Linked DNA regions of Homo sapiens. The protein of the gene in region 1 purifies or fractionates together with the protein of each later gene. This does not show direct contact. Each region holds a gene or a part of one and is shown on either strand. Other genes may lie near its edges.

Region 1 (3,500 bases):
ACTCATGCCATGTCCCCAGATGACCCTTGAATCAGCTTAAAAACCAAAATGGAAAAAGGTCAATGCATCCTCAGCAGGAAGTCAAGAAGGAAACAACGATAATACTGAGAGCAGCTACAATGCACTGGCTGCCTCTTCCACGCCAGGCACTGTGCTAAGTATTATGCCTAGACTGCCGCATTCCTCACAAATACTCTAGGAGGAAAGCGTCATTTTTATCCTCCCTCTAGAGGTAAGGAAAATTAGGCCTTAACAGGGAAGTTCAATAATCTGCCCAAGGTCACAGCAGGCAGCTCAGCCTGGATCGTCCCTCTGGAGGCTGTTTCTGACTCCAAGCAGACACAGAGGAACACTAACTCCAGGGCAACAAGAGCAGCTCCCACACATAGGGTGGGGCTGCATCCAGGTGTTCTTCCCCCACATTCGTTCACAAAAACCACTGGCCCCTGAAGGCAGTTCTTACCCTCATTCAAAGTGAGGAACAAGACGTTGAGGCCCAGGCAGGTCAGCAAGGAACACAAAGGCATCTGCCACCTACAATACAGAGAGTCCTGATCACTACAGAGAGTCACTCCTCCAGCTGGGGAGGGGAGACCAGGCAGCACAGACGGGACATCAAACCAGAAGAGGAGGCCTGGAACACAGAAGGTCAAGGAGAAACGAAAAGGGGGCCTCTCACTTGGACTGGTGACCAGGAGAGGCGGTAAGATGTCACACATTAGCACCTGGGGTGAGGAAACTGGTAGGTCTGTAGTGCTTTCTCCCAAAAGGAAGAAGAATTTATAAAATATCAGTTAAGAAACCCAGTTAATACCATTTAACCTGTGTTTTGTAAGGTTGTATTCTCCTTAAGAGGTGACACTGACAAATGTTCTTAATATTTTCCTCTATTCTTTTTTTATAATTTCATAAGAATATATAATCATTGCACAAGATTCAACTAATACAGAAATCAAGAAAAAACAAATTGTGGACTTCTTTGGCCCCATTTGTGCCTTTATCTTCTTATGTCCATGTTTTTGAAAATTTGAGAGTTTATCTGAGAGTTTATTTTGAATACCTATTAATTCAAAAAGAGAAACAATAGTAAAGATTTTATTTTAATATATTAAAAATCAAGATGAAAGTAGGGTGCAGCATTCACTTAGCAATCACACCTTAAGTGAGCTGGAACAGACAGAAGCAAACACAGATACATCACTGCCACCACCACCACCACCACCAAATGGCAATGCAGAAGCCCCCAAACAGGGAACAAGGAAGACCAGAGACTCAGATTGCTGAGAACAAGCAAATGCTGCTGGCTCCGTCCCTGATAAAGGACATTTAGTAGGGAAAGAGGAGCACAGATGCAACAATGAAGCCACGACACCCAAATTCTAAAGGCAGTGTCAATATATAGGTGAGCCACTAGGAGAGAGACAAACATCAGAAAAATAAACAGGTAAATTGCTGGCAAGCATTGAATGTATTTTCTTTTTTTTTTTTTTTTTCTTTTGAGACAGAGTCTCGCTCTGTTGCCCAGACTAGAGTGCAGTGGCACAATCTTGGTTCACTACAACCCCCGCCTCCTGGGTTCAAGCGATTCTGTCTCAGCCTCCCTAGCAGCTGGGATTACAGGGGCACGCCACCACACCTGGCCAGTTTTTGTGTTTTCAGTAGGGATGGGGTGTTTCACTATGTTGGCCAGGCTGGTCTCAAACTCCTGACCTCAGGTGATCTGCCCACCCTGGCCTCCCAAAGTGCTGGGATTAAAGGCGTAAGCTACCGTGCTGGGGCTAAATATATTTTCTTGTGCTCTGGAGTATTTCAGAGTTACTGAATGAGGTTAACTAATTCATGCAGGGCTTTTACTTTTTTTTATTATTATACTTAAAGTTCTGGGATACATGTGCAGAACGTGCAGGTTTGTTACGTAGGTATACACGTGCCATGGTGGTTTGCTGCACCCATCAACCCATCATCTACCTCAGGTATTTCTCCTAATGCTATTCTTCCTCTAGCCCCCACCCCTCAATAGGCCATGGTGTGTGATGTTCCCCTCCCTGTGTCCATGTGTTCTCACTGTTCAACTCCCACTTATGAGTGAGAACATGTGGTGTTTGGTTTTCTGTTCCTGTGTTAGTTTGCCGAGAATGATGGTTTCCAGCTTCATCCATGTCCCTGCAAAGGACATGAACTTATCCTTTTTCATGGCTGCACATAGTATTCCATGGTGTATATGTGCCACGTTTTCTTTATCCAGTCTATCATTGATGGACATTTAGGTTGGTTCCAAGTCTTTGCTATTGTGAATAGTGCTGCAACAAACATACATGTGCATGTGTCTTTACAGCAGAATGATTTATAATCTTTTGGATATATACCCAGTAATGGGATTGCTGGGTAAAATGGTATTTCTGCTTCCAGATCCTTGAGGAATCGCCACATTGTCTTCCACAATGGTTGAACTAATGTACACTGCCACCAACAGTGTAAAGGGGCTTTTACTTTTTAATGAAATTTATGAGTAAGGGAATGAAATGACATCTGTGTCTTTCTCCTGAAATTCAACACACTCCACCTGTACCACCCTAATTACGCCTCAGAACCTCTAGTGGCAGCTACCAGGGTAAAAGCGAAATAAAAGCCAATCCCATTTTGGAAATAAAAACACCACCACTCAAGTCACTTTCATTTTAAAGCCTCTTCCCTTCTATAAAATGTCTTTACTGACACTTTGGTCCCAGGAGACCCAAGCAGTAGAGTAGCTGATCCCAGGAGAGAGTCTGTTAACAATTTACTGCAGCTCTAGGCTTCAGACCTAATAGCCAGAGCCCAAGATTAGGTCCCTCTTCAAAGTCAAATCCTCTTTACTAAGAAAAGAACAATCAAAAGCACAAACTAACGTGACAGCCACTTTCATGGACCAGTGCTCCCTCTCCCAGCAGCACAGAAACTGCAGGCTCCTGGGGGCTTTTAAGTCCAATGCTCCTCCTGCATCCTGCTTTAACCAATCCTACCACATCCTCCAATTTTTAATTCCATAAAATGGAAAAACCCTAACACATTAGTGTGCTAAGACGCACTACGGACTAGTAGAGGAAAAGGAGACGGGCAGGACAGGATACACTTAACTTTCGTACTTTGCCACAAAGAGCAACACACACATACAAAGAATGTGCCGGGGGCACAGCCTCTCTCCTAAAGAAGACCAAACTTCACATCATGCTGAGATTATAAAAGGAGAAAACAGCCTCTCCTCATACTGTCTCCCTACCCCTTGTGGGAAGAGCACAGTGATCTTACAGTAGAGAACACAGCTCTGGAACACTGACTAGCTCACCTCTACGGATACAGACATAAATTAGGTGAACAAGAAAAATGTAGGGCCTTTGCCAGAGAACTAGTAACAAAACATCCACTATTTCCAGACTGAGGCATGGATAAATACTCAATGGCATCCTCAGAGGTTAACGTAACTCCACTCACCCTGCTTCCTACCAGTCTCTCTCATGTAT
Region 2 (3,500 bases), on another chromosome or scaffold:
GTCTATTCATTACAGTCTCTGTCTGTATCAGCCCTGGACCGCCACACTTGGACCTGCTGCAAGGGACAGGTGGCCTGAGCTTCCAGGACCGAATCGGTCGTGCTGGTGGCACCTGCTCTTCCCCGACCTCTGTGGCCCCATTCCTGCATATAGAGTGGGGATCCCATGTCCTGACCCAGCCGCACCTGTAGGATGCTGGGAGGTGGGAGGGTCCTGGGATGTTTGGGGCTCCCTGCTTCTCCCAGCGGGGGTCGCCTAGGACCCTGGCTCATACCTTGTGCGTCCAGCCTCTTGTCAGCATAGACCTTGTAGGTGAAGGCGTGCCGCAGGGCCAGGGCTGCAAAGAACATCTCCACACAGATGATGAAGTCCTGGTAGCCGGCAGCCACGGTGCCCTCGCCCACCGACACGCGGGCCGAGTGGATTTTGGGGATGGCCCCACACTTCTCCAGGATGGCCAGGAGCATGCCTGGATGGGGAGGCACGGGTGTCTGGACCCAGAATGATTCCTTTCCTGCTCCCCCTTCTTCCACAATGCCCCATTCAGCTGCCCACATGCCCCAGTGAGGATGTGAGCAGGGCCACAGCTGCTCCTGCAGGGCAGGGGTAGCGACACAAGGCCACAGCCTCCGGAAACCCCACTCTCCCAGCTCTTTGCCACCGAAACTGAGATGCCAGCAATTACGCAGGGTCTCCTGGGCCCTCTCATCCATGTAGCGGCCCCACCAAAGCTCTCCCTAGCCCCTGGGAAAGGCCCTCGAGGGCTCAGATTTCACCCCCAGCAAGTGCCCAGTGGGCTGAGGCCCCTCTGAACAGGCCCTACAGGCACCAGGGACCATAAGCAGAAGGGGCAGCAGGAAGCGCAGAGGACAGGGTGGCATGGGCAGCCTCCAGGTGCTGGGAGGGGGCTCACCTTGCCAGAAGGAAAGAAAGATGACGGACTTGACCATGAAGAACTTGAGGACGGGGCTGTAGGGGCTGAGCAGCTCCCGGGTGGCGAAGTAGAAGAGGAAGAGGGCGTAGAGGGCCAGGCTGACGGAGATGTTGTAGATGATGGTCACGTAGAGGTAGCCACTGGTGACGCTGCGGGACGGGGAGCATTTTCTGGCTGGGACAGACCCTTGGAGGGAAGGGGCTCTCCTCGACTGCACCACACACAGTCCCCATGGCTCTCAGCCCCACACCTCCAGCAGAGCTCAACGAGCCACTGAAGGGGTCAGAATGGGTGATCAAAGCGACAGACAGGGGTGGGGGTACATGGGGTGCGCCTGCAGGCCAGACCAGCTCTACTGCCTCTGCGTGGCTCGTGGACTTGTCTAAGCCCTGGTGCCCACACTCCTAACGTTGGACACCAGTGTGGAAGCCAGGGCCGGGCCCGAGGCCATAGCCTGACACTCAGATAACAGGCGTCAAAATAGGTGACGCTGCTCAGCTCTGCTGCCTTTTCACTCGGTCGGCTGCATCCCCCTGACCTCCTTTTGCCCACCTGCCCTGGCAGGGCTGTTACACAGTTCACAGACAGTGTGTGCCGAGAGCTTGAAAGCACAGGGCTAGACACATGGTCACTTTTTTTTTTTTTTTTTTTAGATATGGAGTTTTGTTCTTGTCACCCAGGCTAGAGTGCAATGGCGTGATCTTGGCTCACCGCAACCTCTGCCTCCTGGGTTCAAGCGATTCTCCTGCCTCAGCCTCCCGAGTAGCTGGGATTATAGGCACCCGTCACCACGCCCGGTTAATTTTTTGTATTTTTAGTAGTGATGGGGTTTCACCATGTTGGCCAGGCTGGTCTTGAACTCCTGACCTCAGGTGATCTACCCGCGTTGGCCTCCCAAAGTGCTAGGATTACAGGCGTGAACCACTGTGCCCAGCCACGGGGTCACTTTCACTAAGCCCAGAATGAAATGGGTGTGGACAATTTACACAGCACGGGCTTTGTATCTGTGGACTTGAGCCGACCTCTTGGGGCTCTGACCCTCTCGCTCCCTGCCTCAGCAGTGGTCACTGTCCCTTTGTGGCCCATCCCTTCATGGTACCACTCTGCAGCCTGGACATGAACGTGACTGCTGCCAATGGCTCACTCCGGGGCTGGCAGCGGGGCCAACTGCAAGGGTGTCCACTGCTGGGCTCAGACTTCAGGGGGGTTGTGAGCACCAGACACCCAGGAAGGTCATGGCTGTGCGGCCACTCTGGCTGCCCCCTTCCCTGAGCCAAGGCACCAGCCTGCGCCAACACTCCTCCCACACACCCCGGGGAGCACCCGCTGCTTACTCAAAGTCCCCATCCCGGTACTTGCCGAAGGCCTGGAGGACCACAGTGCTGACCGCCATGAGTGGCTTCACCACACAGAACTGCAGGGTGGCCTGTTGGGGGGAAAAGGAGGTTGAGTGTGGAGGAGGAGCACAGAAGGCATGAAGCAAGCCCTGCCTCTGGCAGACGGAACTGTACCGGATGGAGGGACAGAGAGGATGAAGGAGACGGAGAGGACGGAGGGATGGAGGGACGGAGGGGATGGAGGGACGAAGGGATGGAGGGGATGGAAGGATAGAGGAGATGGAGGAGATGGGGGGTGGCTACGTGTCCTGCTCCCAGGGGACTGCTGTCTGCGCGGGGCGGGGGGCAGAACATATAGGAGATGCAGCCAGCGCAATGCCGTATGTGATATGAGCATGTGGAGGAAGGGAGGGAGGAAGGGAGGAATGGTGTGGCAGGGCACGATGGAGGCGGGAGACAGGAGATGCACACAAGGAAGCTTCTCGAGCCAGGACCATCAGGTGGGTGCCGGAGATGAGAGGCTCGACAGGCAGAGGGGGCAGCTTGCACCAAGGCCCCGAGGCAGAGGGTGGACAGGTGCAAGGGGCTGCGCACTAGAGAGGTGGCTGAGGAGATGGGCAGGGCCAGGTCCTGGAGACCTTGGTGCCCGGGGCAAGGCTAGGGCCCTGCTCAAGGAACCAGCCACCGGGAAGCCGGCGCAGGTGAGGGCCTCCTCCCATCCTCCATGTCCACCCCCGATCTGGTTCCTAGCCCTACTCTCTGGGCCTGGGTCCAGGGTTTCTGGTCAGCAGAGGTCACTCTGGGGATGGAGGTGACCTGCAGGAGCCCAGAGCACGTGGACTCCAGAGTCTCAAAATCTGAGTTTGAACTCTGGGGACAGCTTGGGCAGACACTTGGCCTCTGAGCACAGACTCCCTGATGAAAAGGATGTAGTCACTCCCCACACCACAGGGCCACTGCTGCGGGGATGGCACAGCCAGGAAGCGCAGCATCTTCTCGGGAGTCTCCCGCCTCTGTACATGCACTAACGGCGCCTGCTAGCTGGCTGAGCCACGGAAAGAGTTCCTCAGCCAGGTTTTCCCGATTCCCTACGGGCGGACCCATGGTGCCCATAACATCACTAGTATCACCATTATCTAGAAAGCAAATAAATCTAAGCCCTAAGACCCCTTCTGAGGAGCTGGGGGAGGTTAAATCCAATCCAAAAGGCTCAACTAGTGTAGCTGCAA
Region 3 (3,500 bases), on another chromosome or scaffold:
CCCAGGTTCGATCATCGCCTAGGAGAACTCACAGGTCTCGGGACATAGTCATGCTTATAGCTCTGACTTATTAGGGGGCAAGGATACAAAGCAGTTAGCCAAGGCAGAAGGCATCAGGGTGAAGTCCAGAGGAAAGCAGGTGTGCTGCCAGGGTCCTCTCCCAGTGGATTCACGCAGGGTGCACTTCATTCCCCCAGCAAGGAGTTGTGACAACACAAGTGAAGGGTTGTCTTCCAGCCCCGCACCAGGGATTGGTGGCTGGTCACATCACCCTCTGCTCTGCATCGAAATCTCAGGCTTGCAGAAGAAAGCAGGTGTTCAGCATAAACCACACTGTTTGTGCAAACAGTTGAGGCACAGTGAGCCCCCCTTGTCACCTTCAGGGAACGATAGGAACCTTCCCCAAGTCCAAGTTCCCAGAGGCCAGCCAAGGGCTGTCCTTGCAAGCAAGCAGGTCTCCTTTCTCAGAAGAGCAGTGTGGGGCCTGCTGTGCTGACTTCCTGCACACCATTTCATTACCCCTCCCGTATCTGATTCCAAGGCCCAATTCTAACAACCTCAGGTGGCCCATTGAGATTTGCTGCTGGTGAGCAGCCAGTTCTGGGAGCATCGTTGTCTAAACTCCAGAAGGCTGCTGACTTTGTCCCAAGGGCAAGTTTGATGGAGGGATTACAGGGAGCAGAGGACTGGAGTGTCCGTCAGGACCAAGCCTGACTGCCTCACCAGCTGCCTGGGGCTGGTGGATTTCTCCAGGAGAAATTGATGCTGGGAGTGTTTCTTCTCTGTGGTCAAGTTCAGCACTTGGGGCTCCCCTCGGGACTGTGTTGAGACTGGACTCTCATGCATGAATCATTGATTCCTACACTTGTTGAGCTCTTACTCTTCACCAGGTCCTGAGGGATCAGATGAGACCCTCCTCAGGCCCCGGCCCCAGCCATTGTCTCATCCCCTGCCCATTTTAAGCCCCCATTTGGAAGAGCTCTAAATCTGGTCCAGCTCACTGAAGCTTCAGGAGTAGGAGCAGCTCGTAGAGTTGGGTCTGCAAGCAGCTGCCTCATCCCCGACTTGCCATCACCTTACAGGATGACCGTGCCCATCAGCATCACCAACCCTGACCTGCTGAGGCACAGCACAGAGCTCTTCATGGACAGCGGCTTCTCCCCACTGTGCCAGCGCATGGGAGCCATGGTAGCCTTCAGGAGATTCGAGGACTTCACCAGGTACCCAGCATGGCCCGGTCTCCAACACCCTGAGCATGGGGGCTGGGCAGACTTCCCTTGAATCCCCCCCCAATTCACTGGACAGATGGGGTGGGAGAGACCCAGACACGTGGCACAGCATGTCAATAACAACAGAATAATAATAGCATTGTAGCCAAGAGTATGAGCCTACATGTCAGCTTGCCTGGCACAGCACATCAATAACAACAGAATAATAAGAGCATCGTAGCCAAGAGTGTGAGCCTGCGTGTCAGCTTGCCTGGTTTGAATTCTGGCTATGTGCTTTCTAACTAAGAGACTGAGCAAAATATTTTTACCTCTCCATACCTTCGTTTTCTTATCTGTAAAATGGGAATAATAAAGGACTCACTTCATAGGTGCGCCATGAGAATTAAATGAGATAACATATGTGAAATAACATATTTAAAGTATAATTAGTATGCAGATAATATAGTGACTAAATGTTAGCTCTCAATAGTTACTGTTATAGTCTTTTTTCAGCCTTTCACTGTGTGTTCTGCTTTGTGCTTGGAGTATCTTGTGGAATTTTCACAACAGCCTCATGAGGCATAGGGATTACTCTTATTACCTTTCTTTGACTCGGGGTGAGGTGAGGTTTCTAGGATCTCCCAGCCAGTAAAAATGGGAGCCAAGAGTTGATCTCAAGCCCAGCTGATGCCTGAAAGCGCTGGAATCCTTCCCTGTATTCCTGATCACAGATCACTTAGGTTCATTCTTCCCTTTTGGGAAGGACCCCATCACGGGTGCTCTGGACAAAGTAGACAGGGAACCTCCTGAGCTCTGTAGAGTTGGATAAGATCAAAGGGTGTTGGCTGGGAAATTGGGAGGGTCTGGCGTTCCCTGCTGCCTGGCTTGGAAGCTTGACCTCATCCCCATGGGTCAGCAGCCCCTCAGCCCTCCCTCTCTACCCGCACCCCCAGAAATTTTGATGAAGTCATCTCTTGCTTCGCCAACGTGCCCAAAGACACCCCCCTCTTCAGCGAGGCCCGCACCTCCCTATACTCCGAGGATGACTGCAAGGTAAGCGTCTAAGCCCAGGGAGCAACCTGGGGAGCAGGTGGGCCGTGGCCCCCAGGCTTTCCAGCCCTACCCCTTGCTTCTCCCTCTCAGAGCCTCAGAGAAGAGCCCATCCACATTCTGAATGTGTCCATCCAGTGTGCAGACCACCTGGAGGATGAGGCACTGGTGCCGATTTTACGGACATTCGTACAGTCCAAGGTACTCTGGGCGTGCCTCTGGTTTTGGTGGGGGTTCTTGGAGAAGGAGGAGGGGCTGGGCTCGTCGAGGCGGCCCTTGGGGAGGCAGGCGTGCTGAGTACTTCAGAGCCACAGACCTGGCTTCCCACTCTAGCTCTGCTCGCCTCATAGCTGGCGACCTTGGGCAGATGTGGCTGAACGTGGGGTCAGCATTTCTCTCGCTCACGGTGTTGCAATGATTCAATGACAAAGTATATACACGGCTTAGCCAGTCCCAGGTACGGAGGGCACACCCAATAAATAGTTTGGAGATTTTCTGGGAGTGTTTTTGTTGGAATAATCCAGAAACTGGCAGTTTTAAAATGGCTACTTACATTGATGACCAAGTGTGCCAATAACAGCAGGTTGCTCTGTAAGCCTGTGATGCCATTGTATTTCAGCCTGGGGGACAGAGCGAGACCCTGTCTCAAAAAAAATTATATATATTTACAGTATACAATGTGATATTTTTTAATTATCTTTTTAATAACAGCTTTATTGAGACATCATTGACATACTACACAATTCACCCATTTAAAGTGTGCAGTTTTGCAGCCATAAAAAAGAATGAGATCATGTCCTTTGCGGGGACATGGATGAAGCTGGAAGCCATCATCCTCAGCAAACTAACACAAGAACAGAAAACCAAACACCGCATGTGCTCACTCATAAGTGGGAGCTGAACATTGAGAACACATGGGCAGAGGGAGGGTAACAACGCACACCGGGGCCTGTCGGGGGGTGGGGGCCGAGGGGAGGGAACTTAGAGGACAGGTCGGTAGGTGCAGCAAACCACCATGGCACATATATACCTGTGTAACAAGCCTGCACGTTCTGCACATGTATCCTGTTTTTTTTTTTAGAAGAAATAAGAAAAAAAGTGTACAATTTAATATATTTTTAGTATATTCACCAGGTTGTACAACCATCACCAGAATCAATTTTAGGACATTCTCATCACTCCATAGAAAAACCCTGTACCTGTTAGCAGTCACTCCCCTCTGTCCCCAACCCAAAAACCCTC
Region 4 (3,500 bases), on another chromosome or scaffold:
GTCCTTTCTCCTCGGCCTCCCAAAGTGCTGGGATTACAGGCGTGAGCCACCACGCCTGGCCTACTTCATTTCTTTTTAAAATCTTTATTTTAGAAATTTCAAACATACCAAAATAGAACGTAATGACCTCCTATTATCCAACTACAGTAATCACTCATGGCCATTCATGTTTCATTTATACCCTCCCATTTCCCATCACTTTCTTCACCTGCACCCTCCGCACAATTAATTTGAAGCAAATCACAGATCTTATATCATTTTTTCTATAAACATTTCATTTTCTTACTCTAAAAATACTCTAAAAGCAAATGTTCACACCATTATCACCTTAAAAATGTAATAATTTCTTTCTTTTTTTTTTTTTTTTTTTGAGACAGGGTCTCACCTTTTGCCCAGGCTGGAGTGCAGTGGTGCAGTCTCAGCTCATTGCAACCTCTGCCTCCCAGGTTCAAGCGATTCTCCTGCCTCAGCCTCCGAAGTAGCTGAGATTACAGGCACCCGCCACCATGCCCAGCTAATTTTTAGTAGAAACAGGGTTTCACTATGTTGGCCAGGCTGGTCTCAAACTCCTGACCTTGTGATCCGCCTGCCTCAGCCTCCCAAAGTGCTGGGATTACAGGCGTGAGCCACCACGCCCTGCCAACACTCCCATTTTTAAGTCACGTCTTAGGTGCCCATTCCCTACCCCACTTGATTATTAGCTTTTTGTGGTTATTTTTTCTTTTAGGTAAAATGTACATATATTAAGATGCACACAAATCTTAGCTATATGACGAATGGCAATACCTGTGTAACCCACACCTTTACCGTGTTATAGATTTCCTTTGCCCCAGAAAGTTCCTCATGTTCCTTTCCACTTAATCTCCTCACCCCGTCCCTGAAAGCACCCAGTGCTCTGATTTTTCTCTCCTTAGTTTTGCTTGTTCTAAAACTTCATATAAATTGAATCATATAGTATATATACTTTCTAATCTGGCTTCTTTTACTGAACTGTTAGTGAGATTCATCCATGTTACTGTTCTTTTTTTATTCTGTTTTATTATGTAGTACTCTATTATACGGCTGTACCACAGTTTATCTATTCTCTTTTATGGACATTGGGTTTGTTTCCAGTTTTGGATTATTGTGAATAAAACTGCTATAAACATTTTTGTACTTGCTTTTTTGTGGGCAAATGTTTTCATTTCTCTTGTATAAATACCTAGGAGTGGAATTGCTGGGTGAAACGGTAGCTGCATGTTTAATTTCATAAGAAATTGTAAAACCTTTTCCCCCAGTGATTGTACCATTTTATAGTCCCACCAGCAGTGAGAGGTCTAGTTGCTCTGCAGTGTCACCAACATTTGGTGTTTTTAATTTTAGCCATTCTAGGGGGTGTCTGTTGGTTCTCATTGTGATTTTAATTTGCATTTCCTTGATGACTAAACATGTTCAGAACTTTTTCATTTGATTATTGATATTTGTTTATATAACCTTATAAAGTATCAAGTCTTTTACCCATATACTGATTGTTTTAGTCAGTTTTATTATTTAGATATATAGTTCATTTTCATCACATAATTTTTAGAGTAATTTAAAAGTATACTTGCATTATATTTAGTAACAAAAACAAGATTAATCTGAATTCATGTGTCTCTATCTCTTTGGGTAAGACATGTTAGATTCCAGTTTGATTAAAAAAAAAAAACAAAAAACCTTGTAGTGACCTGTTATTACTCTTCTTGCCTTGAAACCTGCAGCTACTCTATTGTGCCTTCCCAATTTTTCAGTATTTGAGACTTCTCCTGGTTTTTTTTCCCAAAAGCATTTTGGAGACAAAAGGAAATCCAAACCCATTTTACCTGAACCCAACCACTCACATGATCTCTGATGTTCTCCCCAGAATGGTGTTGTACTGTCTGTTGTCATTCATTCAGTGTATCCAGACTTGAGTATCCTTAGAGGTCCATATGCCCCATTTATGAGAATGAAATTTAATCAGAGGGAAGACTATTGAAAATTTGTTTATTTATGTATTTTTTTTGAGATGGAGTCTCGCTCTGTTGCCCAGGCTGGAGTGCAGTGGTGCAATCTTGGCTCACTGCAACACCTTTGGCCTCCCAGGCTCAAGTGATTCTCCTGCCTCAGCCTCCTGAGTAGCTGGCACTACAGGTGTGTGCCACCACACCTGGCTAATTTTTGTATTTTTGGTAGAGATGGGGTTTCACCGTGTTGGTCAGGCTGGTCTCAAACTCCTGACCTCAAGTGATCTCCCTGCCTCGGCCTCCCAAAATGCTGGGATTACAGGCATGAGCCACCGCGCCTAGCTGAGAATTTACTTTTTATGGTGTTTTAGCTGTAGCAGTCAACTTGAGCATCCTACCAAAGCAAGTTGTTAATGCATATGTGATGAACACGCCAATGTAACAAAAACGTATTCTTTTTTTTACAGAAGCTGCCAGTAACTCAGATTCTAGCCATGAAGGTCAAGAGGAATCTTCAAAGGAAAATGTGTCATCAAATGCTGCCTGCCCTGACCACACCCCAACACCTAATGATGATGGCAAATCACATGAACTGTCTAACCTTCGACTGGAGAATCAGCTGCTGAGGAATGAAGTTCAGTCTTTAAATCAAGAAATGGCCTCGTTACTCCAAAGATCCAAAGAGACTCAAGAAGGTAGAGGCTTAAATTGTTCAGGATTAGGAATTTAACTTTTAAAAATAAACTTAAGGCTGGACGCAGTGGCTCGTGCCTGTAATCCCAGCACTTTGGGAGGCCGAGGCGGGCGGATTGCCTGAGGTCAGGAGTTCAAGACCAGTCTGGCCAACATGGTGAAACCCTGTGTCTACTAAAAATACAAAAAAATTAGTCAGATGTGGTTGCAGGCACCTGTAATCCCAGCCACTCAGGAGGCTGAGGCAGGGGAGTTGCTTGAACCAGGGAGGTGGAGGTTGCAGTGAACCGAGATTGCACTACTGCACTCTAGTCTGGGCAGCAGAGCAAGACTCTATCTCAAAAATAAATAAATAAAAATAAAATAAAATAATAAACTTAAAAACTTTAAACTGTTAGAAATATTTACATTTAAACTGTGAGAAATTAGATGCGACTTGTAAAATGATATTTTCATAGAAAAACTGCCCAGATTTGGAAATGGGACCAGTCATCCTCCCACCAACCCAAAACATAAGAGTATTCGCTTCTTTGGTCATCCTTTAAGAACCATGAAATTGAAGAACTGAGAGGAACAAACTAGTAGTAGTCTAGTTCATTCATTTATTCTGAACTTTCAAGGGAAGCTGTTCCATTAAACAAAGTAGTAGGCACTAATAGAGTTGCAGTGTTGCTGCTCTAGGGCATATAAAAGGTACATGGAATTCAGTTCAGTGCCCTTGGGAATTGTGCAGTGAGGTGGCCCTGGAGTAGAAAACCTCAAGTTCCTCAGAAATAGGTAATTAAGAAGGAAATAATCTCATTATGGAGGTAGTGACTGAGGAAGATGTGAATGTTATTGTAA

The links. Proteins that work in one complex are often made in the same cells at the same time.
Region 2: the proteins of ZFYVE27 (region 1) and TMEM184B purify together in Homo sapiens (affinity purification with mass spectrometry; one large-scale study listed by BioGRID and IntAct). This does not show direct contact.
Region 3: the proteins of ZFYVE27 (region 1) and ACACB purify together in Homo sapiens (affinity purification with mass spectrometry; one large-scale study listed by BioGRID and IntAct). This does not show direct contact.
Region 4: the proteins of ZFYVE27 (region 1) and GOLGA5 purify together in Homo sapiens (affinity purification with mass spectrometry; 2 studies listed by BioGRID and IntAct, with this or other methods). This does not show direct contact.

What each region holds. Positions count from the first base shown.
Region 1 is NC_000010.11:97,740,128-97,743,627, reverse strand, and holds part of ZFYVE27 (protrudin), read right to left. Parts: intron 535-3,500; coding exon 464-534; intron 36-463; coding exon of another isoform or gene 1-35. UniProt on the Homo sapiens protein: Key regulator of RAB11-dependent vesicular trafficking during neurite extension through polarized membrane transport. Promotes axonal elongation and contributes to the establishment of neuronal cell polarity.
Region 2 is NC_000022.11:38,224,511-38,228,010, forward strand, and holds part of TMEM184B (transmembrane protein 184B), read right to left. Parts: intron 2,361-3,500; coding exon 2,269-2,360; intron 1,084-2,268; coding exon 914-1,083; intron 470-913; coding exon 275-469; intron 211-274; exon of another isoform or gene 1-210. UniProt on the Homo sapiens protein: May activate the MAP kinase signaling pathway.
Region 3 is NC_000012.12:109,231,587-109,235,086, forward strand, and holds part of ACACB (acetyl-CoA carboxylase 2), read left to right. Parts: intron 1-1,082; coding exon 1,083-1,220; intron 1,221-2,161; coding exon 2,162-2,261; intron 2,262-2,351; coding exon 2,352-2,459; intron 2,460-3,500. UniProt on the Homo sapiens protein: Mitochondrial enzyme that catalyzes the carboxylation of acetyl-CoA to malonyl-CoA and plays a central role in fatty acid metabolism.
Region 4 is NC_000014.9:92,804,305-92,807,804, forward strand, and holds part of GOLGA5 (golgin subfamily A member 5), read left to right. Parts: intron 1-2,431; coding exon 2,432-2,659; intron 2,660-3,500. UniProt on the Homo sapiens protein: Involved in maintaining Golgi structure. Stimulates the formation of Golgi stacks and ribbons. Involved in intra-Golgi retrograde transport.